Linked DNA regions of Homo sapiens: region 1 is linked to region 2. A link means that fine-mapping ties the variant in region 2 to the expression of a gene that starts in the linked region. Tissue or cell type: thyroid. Region 2 holds a variant in brackets; the other region holds the start of a gene. All regions are shown on one strand. Distances are from middle to middle.

Region 1 (8,085 bases), 60 kb after region 2:
TATGCTTTTGGAGTCATATCTGAGAAATCATTGCCAAATCTAACATCATGAAGCTTTTGCCCTGTGTTTTCTTCTAACAGTTTTACATTTAGGTCTTTGATCCACTTTAAGTTCTGTATCTGGTATAAGGTAAGGAGGCCAACAACATTCTTTTGTATGTGGGTATCCAGCTTTCCAAGTACCATTTTTTGAAAAGACTGTCCCTCCTCCATCGAATGGTCTTGGCACCCTTGTTGAAACACAGGAGGACTTTAAAGTCAACTCAGATTTCTCAGCTTATTGTCTGGGCTCTTGATAACTGCTTCCTCAGTAAATGACAACATATATCCATGCAGTAGTGCCTATTATATGATAAGGCAAAGACTATTGAGCTAATGAAAGTAAAAAGCTTAGAAGAACACCTGTGGTATGTAGTAAAAAGCTCAACAAATGTTGGTTATTTCATTATTAAGAGTGACATTAGAGTCCAACATCTCCCTTGTTTTCATTAAAGGTTTTAACATATTGCAGAGTTTGTTATATAAGTCAGGCCAAAAGGTACTATACTCTGATCACAACTAATCTTTGGATTTTCCCCCAAGACAGATCCTCATCCACTCCTTTGCTTCTAAGTTTATTTTGCTTCTTATAACAAGTGTTGCACTCAACACCCAAAGATAAACCTTGATCTTAACATATGGCATGCTTTTTGTCAATGCTTTTTGTATGGATACTAAGACCCTTAGGTTGGGTGAGTGTTAGAATGCCATTGCACTGCACTTTAGCCTGGGTAACAAAGCCAGACCTCGTCTCCCCCCAAAAAAAAGAAAAAGAAAAGGGATCTCGCCATGTTGCCCAGGCTGGTCTCAAACTCCTGGTCTCAAGCAATCCTCCCACCTTTGCCTCCCAAAATGTTAGGATTACAGGTATGAGCCACTGCACCCAACCAAAACTTCCACTTCCACTTCACCAAGAAAGTTTCTTTCATTTCAGACTGATTTTCCAAGTGTACTCTAAGAGGGTAACCCTGCCTTTTAGTTGTGTTGATGCCACAACTGTCAGTCTACTTATAAAGTCCAGGATTTAAATGCTAAAGACAAGAGAACCTGAAAAAGGCTTACTCAAACTCCTCTCAGCAAGAGCCCTTAGTCTCCATTCCCACCTTCCTCCAATCCAGCTCACAGTGACCAGTCACGTTACTTTTTTTTTTTTTTTTTTTTTTTTGAGACGGAGTCTCGCTCAGTTGCCCAGGCCAGAGTGCAATGGCACAGTCTTGGCTCACTGCAACTTCCACCTCCCAGGTTCTAGCAATTCTCCTGCCTCAGCCTCCCGAGTAGCTGGGATTACAGGCACCCACCATCATGCCCGACTAATTTCTGTATTTTTGTAGAGATGGGGTTTCACCATGTTGGCCAGGCTGATCTTAAACTCCCGACCTCAGGCAGTGACCTCTTTTCTGTACACCGAATTCCTTCTTCAGTACAGACAGAGTTACTACTTCATTCTTCTCTCAACATTATAATTGTTTTGCGGTTTCTGGGGAGAATTTATCTTACTTATTTCCTTATCTCAAAGGCCTATGCAGAACAGCTAAATAGGTAACTGATGAGAAATATACTACTAGACAAACTCTAACACTCACTCAACCTAAAGGTCTTAGAAATTTGTTCTGTGACATTTTATTGAAACTACACCCTGCATCCAACCAAAAGTAAGGGCTGAATGACTCCTTTTATCCTAGAGTGCACTAGTCTCTGGGGTATACATGCACTCCTCAATCAGTTCTCAGATGATTCTGCCTCTAAGAGCAGCAGAAACTACAGGTAATCATCTCCGGGCTTACTTGAAGTTGTGTGCTCATTCCAAAATCTGCCTTGCTCACTCAAGAGTCCAGGTATCACTGGCCTTCGAGGTCATTAGGCAGCATCCAGTCTTTGAAGCAAACCATTCCAGGTTTTTGACTCTGCTTTCCTGTCAATGTCAGCTAGAGGAACTCTTCTCCCTGCCTTGGCCCTGGCTGGTCCTGGTTCCACTCTGGCTCATTTGCTTCCACACCTGGCCTATGATACCACATGACTAATTCCTTCCTGTGTGCCTCTGGCCCAGGCTTGCCAAAGGAATGCACTCAGAGCAGCTCTACCTATTCCTGTCCATCAGTTGCTGGTTGCGCACTGGCACTGCACATACCTGCTCCACAGAATCTTAAACCTTCAGGACTCTACCTGCTCACAGGTCCTGGGTTCCTACAGGCGTTCTTCATCAAGGGTGGGGCCACAGCTTTGCCCCAAGAGGGCAACCTGCCTCCTTGTTCCTGTACTGGCTTGAGACTCCTAGGCTGTGTCTGAACTAGCTGATAGGCCAGAAGCTTTAGGATGAAAAGAATACTGGAGGAGTCCTCAAAGTTAGAACTTTTATTGGTGTCTGTGTCCCCTCACTCATCTTAGCTATCTTGACCCTTCCCTACTTACCTTAATGATTTCGTGATTTCAATGAAAAAGACGCAACCTAGATAAGATTGCAAGGTCCCATACCTTCCTGGGGGCAGAGTTGACCTCAGACAGGGTCTTGCTTTGTTGCCCAGGCTGGAATGCAGTGGCGTGATCTCAGCTCACAGCAGCCTCAAACTCTCGGGCTCAAGCAATCCTCCCACCTCAGCTTCCCATATAGCTTGGGCTACAGGCGTGCACCACCATGCCCAGCTGATTTTTAAATTTTTTGTAGAGACAAGTTCTCCCTCTGTTGCCCCAGCTGGTTTCGAACTCCTGGGCTCAAGCGATCCTTGCTCTTTGGCCTCCCAAAGTGTTGGGATTACAGGTGTGAGCCACTGTGCCCAGCCCGACCTTTTGTTAATACTCCCATCTAATTGTCCAAACGGACTTGAACAAAAGAATCTTCTTCCCAATACTGCCAGGGAGGGCAAAATTCTTCAAATTCATGTTTGAGGCCATAAACGAACAGGAGTAAAATGGAATCCGCAGGAAGCAATGACAAGAAACCCAAAAACATTCATTTCCCTCCAGCCCAAGTGGCAGATGGGATCTCAAATACACCACGGTGTGATGCGTGACAGGAGGCATCCACTGGGGATGTGGAGCATTTTAAGTGCCCTGCAGAGGGTGGGCCTGGGTCACCCCCCCCCCCACCGCGACACCCCTCCCCAGGCAACATTCCTGGGGAGTCTGGACCTCCCTTGGTGGACCGACACCCGAGGGTCTCTAGGGTTTTTCACCCCATATCGGGGTGAACTGAAGGCATGGGAAGAGGCAGCCCCACAGCCTGGGTCCCCAAAACCCCCTCCGGGCTGAGAGCAAGAGATGCCGCCTGGAGGCCACTCACCAAGCAGCTCCGCTGGCTCAGCAATGGGGGTCGTCCGGGTCTGGGTCATTGCCACTGGCTCGTCCCTCCTCCCACCCTTGCTTCCTGGACTCAAGAGCTGCTGGGCTCTCTGCGCGCCGGCAGTGGGCTCCGCAGGCTGTCTCCTACACAGAGCAGGCGGGAGGAGGGCTCTGGGTTGCTTCCCGCGCCGCAGCCGCGCGCTTCCGGCGGGGTCGCCGCCACTTCCGCTCGAGCGCGCCTCGCGCGGCCGCGGCGCGAGCCGGGACCCCTGGAAGGGTCGGGTGCGCGGCCCAGGAGGTACCGCTGTCTCCTCACAATCGGCCAGGCCTGCAGCCGCTGCCGCCGCTGCCGCCGCCGCCGCCGCCGCCGCCGCCGCCCTACTCAGGGAGTGGCCCAGGCCTGCGGCGCGCCACCCTCACCTCCTTCATTCCTACCGTCAAAGCCCAGCCTTGGCTACCTGACCCCCCTGTGGTCTCGAACTCGGTTAGTCCGGTGAAGGGACAGAGAAGCCTGGGTTCCCGGCGGCATCACTGAGATGCTCAGTCCTGAATTCTGCCCTCCATTAGGATTATCTGCTTTGTGGGATAATTTCCTCATTGGTTGAGTCAGTGAGTTGCGTGTCTGCAAGAGAGCATCCTATCTGGTGGGTCTTCATCTAGATCTTGCACATTTCTTACTAAGTTCATCCTAAGAATATCTTACAGATAAGGAAAGTGAGCTGCAAAGAAGTGTAAAAACAGGGGAAACAGGAGATAGCAGTATAAAGAGAAAAATTAAAACAGATCGTGTGACTTTCCTCTATTGTTAATTGATTTGGGGACATTTTAAACTTATAGAAAGAAAAGAAACACGGGTTTTGTTGACACATCTCAAAACAAAATGGGTGTAACACCTTTAAAATGTAAACTATTGTGCTGGATATGTTTGTATTATTTTGAAGTCATTTAAAGTAATCGCATGAGGTGTTGCCTGCTGTTGGACCAGTAGTTTCTTTTTAGTATTCAAGCAAAGGCATAGTGAGGAAATAGTAAGAAAAAAAGAAGGAATGCTGTAACAGGAAACAAGGGAAAGGAGGAGCAGAGGAAAAGGGCAGGAAAGGTTTAACATTTACGTAGCACTTGCTATGCACCAGACACTTTTAAGCTCTTTAAATGTATTAACTCCTCTAGTTCTCACCACAGCCCTATGAAATGGGTATACTATTATCACCTCTGGTTTACAAAGAAGGCAAGTGAGGTCAAGAGAGGTTAAGCAACTGGCCCAAGGTTACACCGTAAGTGGCAAAACCTTTGCTTGAGCACATCAATTTGGCCCTAGAGTCTATGCTTTTTTTTTTTTGAGAAGGGCCTCTTTCCTGCTGCCTAGGCTGGAGGGCTGTGGCACCATCATGGCTCACTGCAGCTCCAACCTGCCGGGCTCAATGAATTCTCTCACCTCAGCCTCCTGAGTAGCTGAGACCGCAGGCACATACCACCTTGCCCAGCTAGGCTTTTTTTTTTTTTTTTGAGATGGAGTCTTGCTCTGTCACCCAGGCTGGAGTGCAGTGGTGCGATCTTGGCTCACTGCAACCTCTATCTCCCGGGTTCAAGTGATTCTCCTGCCTCAGCCTCCCGAGTAGCTGGGATTACAGGTGCCTGCCACCATGCCCAGCTAATTTTTGTATTTTTAGCAGAGACGGGGTTTCACCACCTTGGCCAGGCTGGTTTCAAACTCCTGACCTCATGATCCACCCGCCTTGGCCTCCCAAAGTGCTGGGATTACAGGCGTGAGCCACCACTCCCAGCCTATTTTTTTTTTTGGTATTTTTTTTATAGTGACAGGGTTTCACCATATTGCCCAGGCGGGTCTCAAATTCCTGGGCTCAAGGGGTCCGCCCGCCTCGACCTCCCAAAGTGTTGGGATTACAGGTGTGAGCCACTGTGCCTGGTCCTAGAGTCTATGCTTATTTTTTTAAAAAAAATTTTATTTATTTATTTATTTTTTGAGACAGAGTCTAGCTCTGTCACCAGGCAGTGGCGTGATCTTAGCTCACTGCAATCCCCGCCTTCTGGGTTCAAGCCATTCTCGTGCCTCAGCCTCTCAAGTAGCTGGGATTACAGGCATGCGCCACCATGCCCAGCTAATTTTTGTATTTTTAGTAAAGACGGGGTTTCACCATGTTGGCCAGGCTGGTCTCAAACTCCTGACCTCAGGTAATCTGCTCACCTTGGCCTCCCAAAATGCTGGGATTACAGGTGTGAGCCACCATGCCTGGCCTATGCTTCTAATCACCACACTATATTTCCTCTAAAGAGAGGGCAAGACTTGAATCAACTGGATTTGATGCTACTGAGTAGGAGTAGACAAGAGAGGTTTGCAAGGTAATTACTCTTCCATGATGTGAGATTATGGGCTAAAATGTTTCATAGAACAAAAATGCCATGAATAAAGTTTAAAAAGAGGAAACATACAGTGCACAAAGAATTAACATCTGGAATAGATAGTGAAAACAAATATATATAAGAAAAAGACAACCCTACAGAGAAATGGGCAAATGTATAAATAGACAATAGATGAAGAAGTAAGAATGAAATAAAACTGACCACATAAAAAAGATGCTTAACTGCACTAGTGATGCTGGCATGCAAAGCAAAAAAATAGAGAGATCCATTTTCTCCCACACTGGCTAAAACTGAAATTTGAAAATATCAATTTTGTGGAAAAGTGAATATTCTTAGTAGAAGTATAAATCAGGATAGCCACTGCTAGGGGTGGGGGTAGATTTGGCAGTATTAATTGAAGTTAAAATATTAAAATTAATCTTTGAAGTAATATTGATTATACTGAAGAACATTGCTTCAGACATTCTAATTTAACTTTTTTATTCTACAGATAAACAGGTGTTCAAAAAGAGGTATGCAAAATATTTAACTGGAAACTTTTTTTGCATAATAGTTTAAAATTAGAAAAATATAATTTCAGCAGGTAAATAAACTATGGTAATAGTTTACTCATTCTCTAAACAAATATTTGTTGATTGCTTACTAGGTATAAGGCATTATTCTGGACATTGAGGATAAATTGACAGTTATCTTTGTGAACTAGAGAAAGATGATAGGGTGGGTTAGGGGCTAATTAACATTCCCCAGCCCAGAGCCTTCCCCTTAATTTTTTTTACATCTTGATAGAATGATTTCAATTTGTTCTGTAAATCACACTGGACTCCCCTGTAATGATTACAGAAAGAAAAATGTTTTTTATATGGATATATGGGTATACCCCAATTTGAAGGCATAAAGGCACAATAGCGGACTCTAAAGTAGGAATGAGGAAAGCTGGAAAGGAGGGGGCTATGCTGATATAGACCATCAAGAAAAGCTTGAAGAGATGTCCCAAATACCCTGATGACTTACTTTTCACTGAAATGCAAAGAAATTGGCATCTTAGATATGCTTCCAAAGATTGTGCCCTACCCCCTGGACAGCTTTTAATGAAGGCAGGACTACAGCAAGAGAAACAGCCAGATAATTGGTTAAAAAGAAAGACTTGCAGGGGCTTGTTTCTTATTATGTTTATATGGTAAATGCCTAGTTAGGACAAAGACAAAGAGCTTGAACATGGTTTGCTCACACTCTCCCTGGTGAATAGATTCAATTACAAAAGAGATTGATGTCTCAACCATAGCAAAAACCTTGTCAAGCTCTCAACTGAGACCACAACATGCTTGTTTAAAAGTGTGGAGAAGGGGCCAGGAGAGGAAACAACATGACAAGGAGTTTATAAATCTAAAGGATGACTTTCTTGCTGCATGTAACTAGTATGTGACTGCTTCTGCATTCCCTTCGATCTATCCTTGGCTTTCTCAATGTGAATATTTTTGTTCTAAAAATTGGGGACCAAATCTGGTCCTCTCAAGGAGAAGTAAGAAGAACCCCAATGTCTTTCTTCTTCCAGCTAATTTAAAATAATTGGATTTAGCCAGGTGTGGTAGTGCATGGCTGTAGTCCTAGTTATTCAGGAAGCTAGGGCAGGAGGATGGCTTGAGCCCAGGAACTCCAGGCTAGTGCACTATAACTGCACCTATGAATAGCCACTGCACTCCAGCCTGGGCGACAGAGCGAGACTCCGTCTCAAAAAAAAAAAAAAAAAAAAAAAAAGCATATTGGATTTGTCAGCAGAAAGCCTTCCAAAATGAGGAAAGATGGGACCTGGACTTGAGTGCCAACTCTAGAATCACTTTCATAGCCACACGGGAAAGTAAAACACTATCTGAATCTCAAAATATTCTGTCTTAAGCCACCAGGTTCCCTTAAGAGCATGTTGGTCCCAGTATTGCCCTGGTGGTGAGTAGGAAGAAGCAGGCCCCAGGGAATTTGTGTAAGGCTCCTGAGCAGCAGATTCTATTAAAAATTCTTCCTGCAAGCCCTGCCCTTGCAATTACTGCCATTCCTCTCACCAGTGGGCTCCCGTTGGGTCAGGCCTCTAGCCCTAGCCACTCAAAGCTTGAGACCATAGTAGGCAGCCCAATAGGCCCTTCCAGACAGTCTCCATCTGCTGGATGAGCAGCTCACCTGTGTCTTAGGGAAAGGCAGAAGGCTCACAGCCTTGCACTCAGGCACATTAACTTATGTGATCCAGCAACTGCTGGGAATTAGGAATGATTAATACCATTTTACAGGTAGGGAAACTGATGCTGAGAGATAGATACCTTTTCTGAGGTCACACAGAAGTGCTTTTTGAATCTAGGTTTCAGAGTTGATCACTCCCTCCACCTTCCGCCTTTGGCCCTTG
Region 2 (8,105 bases):
GTTCATTTACCAATCATCTTTCAGCATAATAACCATCATTTACATAAGGACAAACTTCATTAACTGTGGGAGTCTGGGTACAGTCAGCCTCCTTCTGCAGTTGGTCTAAGATCCTTTAAGGTACTTTGTAGCCAAAGTCAAGAACACTTCATTTTCTTTACCAGGGCCTAAACTGATTGATTGCATCCTTATTTTATTTTGTTTTGTTTTATTTTATTTTATTTTGAGATGGAGTCTTGCTCTGTCACCCAGGCTGGAGTGCAGAGGCATGATCTTGGCTCTCTGCAACCTCCGCCTCCCGGGTTCAAGTGATTCTCCTGCCTCAGCCTCCTGAGTAGCTGGGATTACAGGTGTGCATCACCATTCCCTGCTAATTTTTGTATTTTTAGTAGAGACGGGGTTTCACCATGTTGGTCAGGCTGGTCTTGAACTCCTGACCCCATGATTTGCCTGCCTTGGCCTCCCAAAGTGCTGGGATTACAGGCGTGAGCCACTGCACCTGGCCAGAAGATAAAGATTTTGAAGAACATTTAATTTCCTCATTTCTCCTACCCTCTACCCTGTGGATTGTAAGTTGTAGAAGTTCTTTTTTGGAAGGGAATGGCTCAATACTTGAGTGCCGTGCTCTCCTAGTTGTCATTTATCAAACTATTATTCTCATATATAGGAAGAATTGTCACATTTTTTCTCATATGTAGGAAGAACAGCCATGAGTCAGCTTGCTGAGTCTGATTGGTCCAAGGGCTTCCTGGCACACTGAACCCCAGCCATGCGGAACTCCAGCTCTGTAGAAGAGGAGCAGCTATCACAGCAGTTTGAGTAATTGCAGACAAAGGTGAAGCAAGAAGAGAACAATATCAACAACTAGCAATGATAAAAAAAACAACCTAAATTTACCTGGAACTTTTTTTTCTTCTTTTTTTTTCATGGAGTTTCGCTCTCATTGTCCAGGCTAGAGTGCAATGGCACTATCTTGGCTCACTGTAACCTCCGCCTCCCATGTTCAAGCGATTCTCTTGCCTCAGCCTCCCGAGTAGCTGGGATTACAGGTGCCCACCACCACGCCCGGCTAATTTTTGTATTTTTAGTAGAGATGGGTTTTCGTCATGTTGGCCAGGCTGGTCTCGAACTCCTGACCTCAGGGGATCTGCCTGCCTCAGCCTCCCAAAGTGCTGGGATTACAGGCGTGAGCCACTGCGCCTGGCCTACCTGGCACCTTTATGAACCTGGGAAGTTTTGCAGTTTTATTCTCTGTTAAATGCATATCTGTTGAGCTTTTTCTGTTATTAAAATGTATTCCAAGATTTCTATTTTTTTTTTTTTTTTTGAGACGAAGTCTTGCTCTGTCACCCAGGCTGGAGTGCAATGGCGCGATCTCAGTTTACTGCAAACTCTGCCTCCCAGTTCAAGCAATTCTCCTGCCTCAACCTCCTGGGTAAGTGGGATTACAGGTGCCCACCACCATGCCCGGCTAATTTTTTTATTTTTAGTAGAGATGGGATTTCATCATGTTGGCCAGGCTGGCCTCAAACTCCTGATCTCAGGTAATCCACCCACCCTGGCCTCCCAAAATGCTTGGATTATAGGCATGAGCCACGGTGCCCAGGCTTAATGCTGTATTTTTTAATACACACACAGTAGAGAAGGATATAAGATGACAAGTAAAATACCCCTTCTTAACCTACTCTCAAGCTTTTTTCCTTTCCGTATCTGGCTATAGAATTTGAACTCATTCTTTTTTTTTTTTTTTTTTTTTGATATGGAGTCTTGCTCTGTCGCCCAGGCTGGAGTGCAGTGGCAATCTTGGCTCACTGCAAGCTCCACCTCCTGGGTTCACACCATTCTCCTGCCTCAGCCTCCCAAGTAGCTGGGACTACAGGTGCCCGCCACCATGCCCAGCTAATTTTTTTGTATTTTTAGTAGAGATGAGGTTTCGCTGTGTTAGCCAGGATGGTCTTGATCTCCTGATCTCATGATCCGCCTGCCTTGGCTTCCCAAAGTGCTGGGATTACAGGAGTGAGCCACCGCGCCCGGCAGAACTCATTCTTTTTTTAAAAAAAATTAATTATTTTTTTTTTACTTTCTATAACAAAATATTTCAGACAAAGATAGAGGGACCAGTGTAATGAACTTAATTTACCTATTATCTAGCTTCACCTGTTATCAATAATCTTGTTTTTATCATATTTCCCATATCCAGATTGAAGCAAATTCTAGACATCACATCATTTTTTAAAAATTAAAATTAAATTTATTATTATTATTGTTTTTATAGAGGTGAGGGTCTCACTATGTTGCCCAGGCTGGTCCCAAACTCCTGGGCTCAAGTAATCCTCCTATCTTGGCCACCCAAAGTGCTGGGATTATAGGCATGAGCCACTGCATCTGGCCCACATAATTTCATTTGTAAGTATTTTATAATTATTCAATTTTTATTAATAGATTTTAGGTTTTAGAAGTTCTTTTTAAGTTTGTTTACAACAAAATCTTTATTCAAAAGACTGTAAAAGGTTATAATTATTATAGTCGGACAAAGAGCAAATAAAGGCAAATAAAAAGTTCTCAGAATGTAGTTTCCTTCTTTTAAAATATGTAACTGTTTTCTTGGGATTCAATTGCACGTTTAAGTGTTTAGCCAGCCTGCTTCCATGCCCAGCAGTTAAGCCAGCACAGAAGGTCAAGTGTGAGCATGGTGGCTCATGCCTGTAATCCCAGCACTGTGGGAGGCTGAGGTGGGAGGATTGCTTGAGTCCAGGAGTTTGAGACCAGCCTGGGAAACTTAGTGGGACCCTATTTCTACATAAACTAAAAAAAAAAAAAAAAAAAAAAAAAAAAAAAGCACAGTGTGATAGCATGCGCCTATAATCCCAGCTACTCGGGAGGCTGAGGTGGGAGGATTGCTTGAGCCCTGAAATGCAAGGCTGCAGTGAGCTATGATCGGTTGCCTGTGGGCCCTGCCCAAGCCTCAGCCCAGCTAGGAGTATGAGGCTTTAAGGAGGCCTGTGTGTACAAATGACAGACTCACACCATCTGATGTCCACCCATCTGGAATACATCCCCTCAACAAAGCCTTGTCCTGGGGCAGCAGGCAGGCTGCAACCTGTCATTCAAGAGTGGCTGGCCTTTCCTGCAGGAGGGTGGGAGGGCCTAAGCTGCCCTCCTGTGGCTTCAGGCATCTGGGATGAAGTGGTCCATATGTGGTGGCGATGGGTCAGGGAAAACTTTTTGACTATGTGCTCATAGATCACAGTGGGGATGATGATCAGGGTGACAATGTTCCTGGCTGTGGCCAGAATCTCTGAGATCTCTTTCAGCCCAATGACACTCTGCACAGTGCTTGTTAAACGTTCTTGAACCTGGCACACATGGTGGTTGGTGAAGAGTCCTTGAGGACCACAGAGCTCCCTTTGACCACAGGGAAGACCTTTCCCTTCTTGATGATGAAGCCACCATGGCTTGTGCTGTCCTTGTGCATGGTGACAATCCACTGGACTATCCTGTCCTGAATGACCATAACAATCTTCTTGGCCAATTCCCTCTCACATCTGCCAGATGGGCTTTTTCCATGTTCCACTTGGCACAGTCATGCCCATCAATCTGTAGGATTTGGTCCCCAAAGCACAGCAGCATGAGGGATGCAGTGGTGTTGGCCTGGACCACCTCACCTGCACAAAGAGCCCCTTGTTGGTGGTCTGCAGCTGCAGCCCAGTCTTGCCATGTTTGTCTTTGCACAGGTGGATGTTGTGTACCTGGGCCTTGATCTCATACCACATGCCCAGGCTGTTCCTCCACCCCCTGGGCTGGCTAGGAAACTGAGACAGCAGTTTGCAGACACCAGGGGTGCAGGGGGTCAGCCTGGCCTATGGGACCTAGTGCTTCAGAGGTTACTGGGAAGCAGGGGTAAGGGTGGGGAAAGGAGGACAGAGCGGTTCCTGGGCCCAATTTCATTCTCAGACCACACACTTCACTGAAAAGTTTTAAATTAAAAAAAAAATTGAGCAGATAGTACCATTCCATACTACATAATCCCAGTTTCCCCTGTTAATGACATCCCATATTATTTATTTATTTTTTTTTGTCACCCAGGCTGGAGTGCAATGGTGTGATCTCCACTCACTACAACCTTCGTCTCCCGGGTTCAAGTGATTCTCCCACCTCAGCCTCCTGAGTAGCTGGTTCTACAGGCGCATGCCACCACACCTGGCTAATTTTTGTATTTTTAGTAGAGACGGGGTTTCACTATGTTGGCCAGGCTGGTCTTGAACTCCTGACCTCATGATCTGCCCGCCTTGGCCTCCCAAAGTGCTGGGATTACAGGCAGGAGCCACCACGCCTGGCCTAATAACATCCCATATTATTAAGTGTATCATATACATAGTTAACAAATACATTTCTTACAATTAAGAATCAATAGTGATAAAGTTCATACTTACTCAGATTTTCTTTTTTTCTTTCTTTCTTTTTTTTTTTTTTTTTTTTGAGATGGAGTTTTGCTCTTGTTGCCCAGGCTGGAGAGCAATGGTGCGATCTCGGCTCACTGCAACCTCTGGCTTCTGGGTTCAAGAGATTCTCCTGCCTCAGCCTCCCGAGTAGCTGGGATTACAGGCAGGTGCCACCACGCCCGGCTAATTTTTGTATTTTTAGTAGAGACGGGGTTTCTCCATGTTGGTCAGGCTGGTCTTGAACTCCCGACCTCAGGTGATCCACCTGCCTCGGCCTCCCAAAGTGCTGGGATTACAG[A/G]TGTGAGCCACCACATACGGCCTGATTTTTTTCTTATGATTAGACTCAGATTTTAGATTTTTGGAGAGGAAGATCACAGAGATAAAGTACTGTTTTTCTTTTTTTGAGAGTCTTGCTGTGTCACCCAGGCTGGAGTGCAGTGGCATGATCTTGCTCACTGCAAGCTTCACCTCCTGGGTTCAAGCGATTCTTGTGCCTTAGCATCCTGAGTAGCTGGGACTACAGTTGTGCACCACCATGCTGGGCTAATTTTTTTTTTCTTTTTGAGACGGAGTCTCGCTCTGTCGCCCAGGCTGGAGTGCAGTGGCGGGATCTCGGCTCACTGCAAGCTCCGCCTCCCTGGTTCACGCCATTCTCCTGCCTCAGCCTCCTGAGTAGCTGGGACTACAGGCGCCAGCAACCATGCCCGTCTAATTTTTTTTGTATTTTTAGTAGAGACGGGATTTCATCGTGTTAGCCAGGATTGTCTCGATCTCCTGACCTCGTGATCCGCCCGCCTCGGCCTCCCAAAGGGCTGGGATTACAGGCGTGAGGCACTGCGCCCGGCCAACTGGGCTAATTCTTGTATTTTTGGTAGAGATGTGGTTTTACCATGTTGGCCAGGATGGTCTCAAACTCCTGGCCTCAAGCAATCTGCCCGTCTCAGTTTCGCAAAGTGCTAAGATTACAGGCGTGAGTCACTGCGCCTGGCCTAAAGTACCATTTTCATCACATCATATCAAGGGTGCACACTATCAGCATGTTGTATGACTGTTCACATTGATCACCTGGCTAAGGTAGCGTTTGTCAGGATTCTCCACTGTAAAGTTACTCTTCCCCACCCCTTCTCCATTCTGTATTCTTTTGAAGAAAATCAACAGGCACTGCCTACACTTAAGGAGTGAGGAGTTATGCTCTTCCTCTCTTAGGATGAAGTATCTACTTATTTACTTAAGATTTTTCTGCACAGGAGATTCATCTTTTCTTCATATATTAATTTGTGGATTTATTTATACTGATATGAACTCGTGGATATTCTTTTTTAAAAATGCACTTTCATTCTCAGATCGTTGATATTCATTTTACATTTTTGGTATAATCCAATACTTTATTTTTTAAATTATTCCAGGCTGGGCACGGTGGCTCACGCCTGTAATCCCAGCACTTTGGGAGGCTGAGGCGGGAGGATCCCAAGGTCAGGAGTTCGAGACCAGCCTGGCCAACATGGTGAAACCTGTCTCTACTAAAAATACAAAAATTAGCCAGGCATGGTGGTGGGCGCCTGTAGTCCCAGCTACTCAGGAGGCTGAGGCAGGAGAATCGCTTGAACGTGGGAGGTGGAGGTTGCAGTGAGCCGAGATCACACCACTGCACTCCAGCCTGGGTGACAGAATGAGACTCTGTCTCAAAAAAAAAAACAAAACAAAAACTTATTCCAGCTTTGGCTATTGAGAGCTTTTTCCGTTGCTTCTTTTGTTCCTTTGACATACCCCCATCACTCTTTTGTTTTTTTGAGACAGAGTATTGCTCTGTTGCCCAGGCTGGAGTGCAATGGCACAATCTTGGCTCACTGCAGCCTCCGCCTCCGGGTCCAAGTGATTCTCTTGCCTCGGCCTCCAGAGTAGCTAGAGTTACAGGTGTGGACCACCATGCCTGGCTAATTTTTGTATTTTTAGTAGAGATGGGGTTTCATCATGCTGGCCAGGCTGGTCTTGAACTCCTGGCCTCAAGTGACCCACCCGCCTTGGCTGCCCAAAGTGCTGGGATTACAGGCATGAGCCACCATACCCAGCCACTCCATCACTTTTTTTTTGAGCACTTTATTTTCTGGTACTATAATGTGCTCCAGGCTTATTTTGTATATTTCTTGCCCAGTCCTCAAGCCATTTCTCCAAGGAGTTCCTTTAATGGAAAATGGTATTAGAAACCAAAATCTGAGTATTAGGTGTGCTTGTTGCTACCAGGGTGTTGGTTCTTTTAGGCCACCTCTGACAGAGCAAAGAAATATATGTGGCCAACATTGTGAAACCCTGTCTCTACTAAAAATACAAAAATTAGCCAGGTGTGATGGCGGACGCCTGTAATCCCAGCTACTTGGGAGGCTGAGGCAAGAGAATAGCGTGAACCTGGGAGACGGAGGTTGCAGTGAGCTGAGATCGTGCCACTGCACTCCAGCCTGGGTGACAAGGGTGAGACTCCATCTCAAAGAAAAAAAAGAAATATACGTGTGTTTACTAACCTGTGTATATAGAAATATTTTTTTTCTTTTTCTTTTTTTTTTTTTTGAGATGGAGTCTCACTCTGTCACCCAGGCTGGAGTGCAATGGCGTGATCTTGGCTCAGTGCAACCTCTGCCTCCTGGATTCAAGCAACTCTCCTGCCTCAGCCTCCTGAGTAGCTGGGACTACAGGCTTGTGACACCACACCTGGCTAATTTTTTTGTATTTTAGCAGAGACAGTGTTTCACTGTGTTATTAAATTAAAAATGATTTCTTACTGATATCTCCAACTCTAATCCATGACCACATATATCATTCTATGTGGTATAGATCATAGATCATTGCTTATCTGTAAATTCCCAATCCAACAGTGAGAAACCTGGCTCCCACCATCCACCAACCATTTACTTAATTATTCAATTGCAGTATTTTTGTATAGCAGTACATTATTCCCCCCTTACCTGTGAGGGATACATTCCAATATCCCCAAATGCCTGAAACCATGGATAGTATCCAATTCTATATATACTGTTTTTTCTATACAAACATACATACATACCTATGGTAAAGTTTCTTCCTCTCCTCTCCTCTCCTTTCCTTTTTTTTGGAGATGGAGTCTTGCTCTGTCACCCAGGCTGGAGTGCAGTGGTGTGATCTCGGCTCAATGCAACCTCTGCCTCTCAGATTCAAGCAATTCTCCTGCTTCAGCCTCCTGAGTAGCTGGGACTACAGGCTTGTGATACCACGCCTGGCCAATTTTTGTATTTTAGTAGAGACAGTGTTTCACTGTGTTGCCCAGTCTAGTCTTGAACTCCTGAGCTCAGGCAATCTGCCCACCTCAGCCTCCCAAAGTCCTAGGATTACAGGCAAGAGCCACTGTGCCCAGCCTATGTAAGATTCATTTATAAATTAGGCACAGTAAAAGATTAACAATAATGAAATAGAACAATTATAAAATATACTAATATGGTTTGGCTCTGTGTCCCCACCCAAATCTCATCTTGTAGCTCCCATAATTCCTACGTGTGGTGGGAGGCACCCAGTGGGAGATGATTGAATTATGGTTTGGGCGGGGTCTTTCCCATGCTGTTCTCGTGATAGTGAATTGGTTTCATGAGATCTGATGGTTTTAAACACAGGAGTTTCCCTGCACAAGCTCTTTTTGTC

The links. PIP is the estimated chance that this variant, and not a neighbour inherited with it, causes the effect.
Region 1: KHDC1 starts here. The variant in region 2 is fine-mapped to the expression of KHDC1 in thyroid (GTEx, PIP above 0.99).

The regions. Positions count from the first base shown.
Region 1 is chr6:73,258,647-73,266,731 of GRCh38, reverse strand. KHDC1 (KH domain containing 1) reads left to right here and starts at 3,536. Exons shown (of 4, transcript NM_030568.5): 1 at 3,536-3,958. The region is part of intron 2 of LOC122539213 (KHDC1-KHDC1L); the gene reads left to right. It also overlaps the pseudogene KHDC1-AS1. RefSeq lists a silencer at 3,423-3,692.
Region 2 is chr6:73,318,514-73,326,618 of GRCh38, reverse strand. It overlaps the pseudogene SDCBP2P1. Among named protein-coding and RNA genes, the nearest start is that of C6orf147, 12 kb to the right of the region's middle. The variant A/G (reference allele first, on the strand shown) is at 4,741.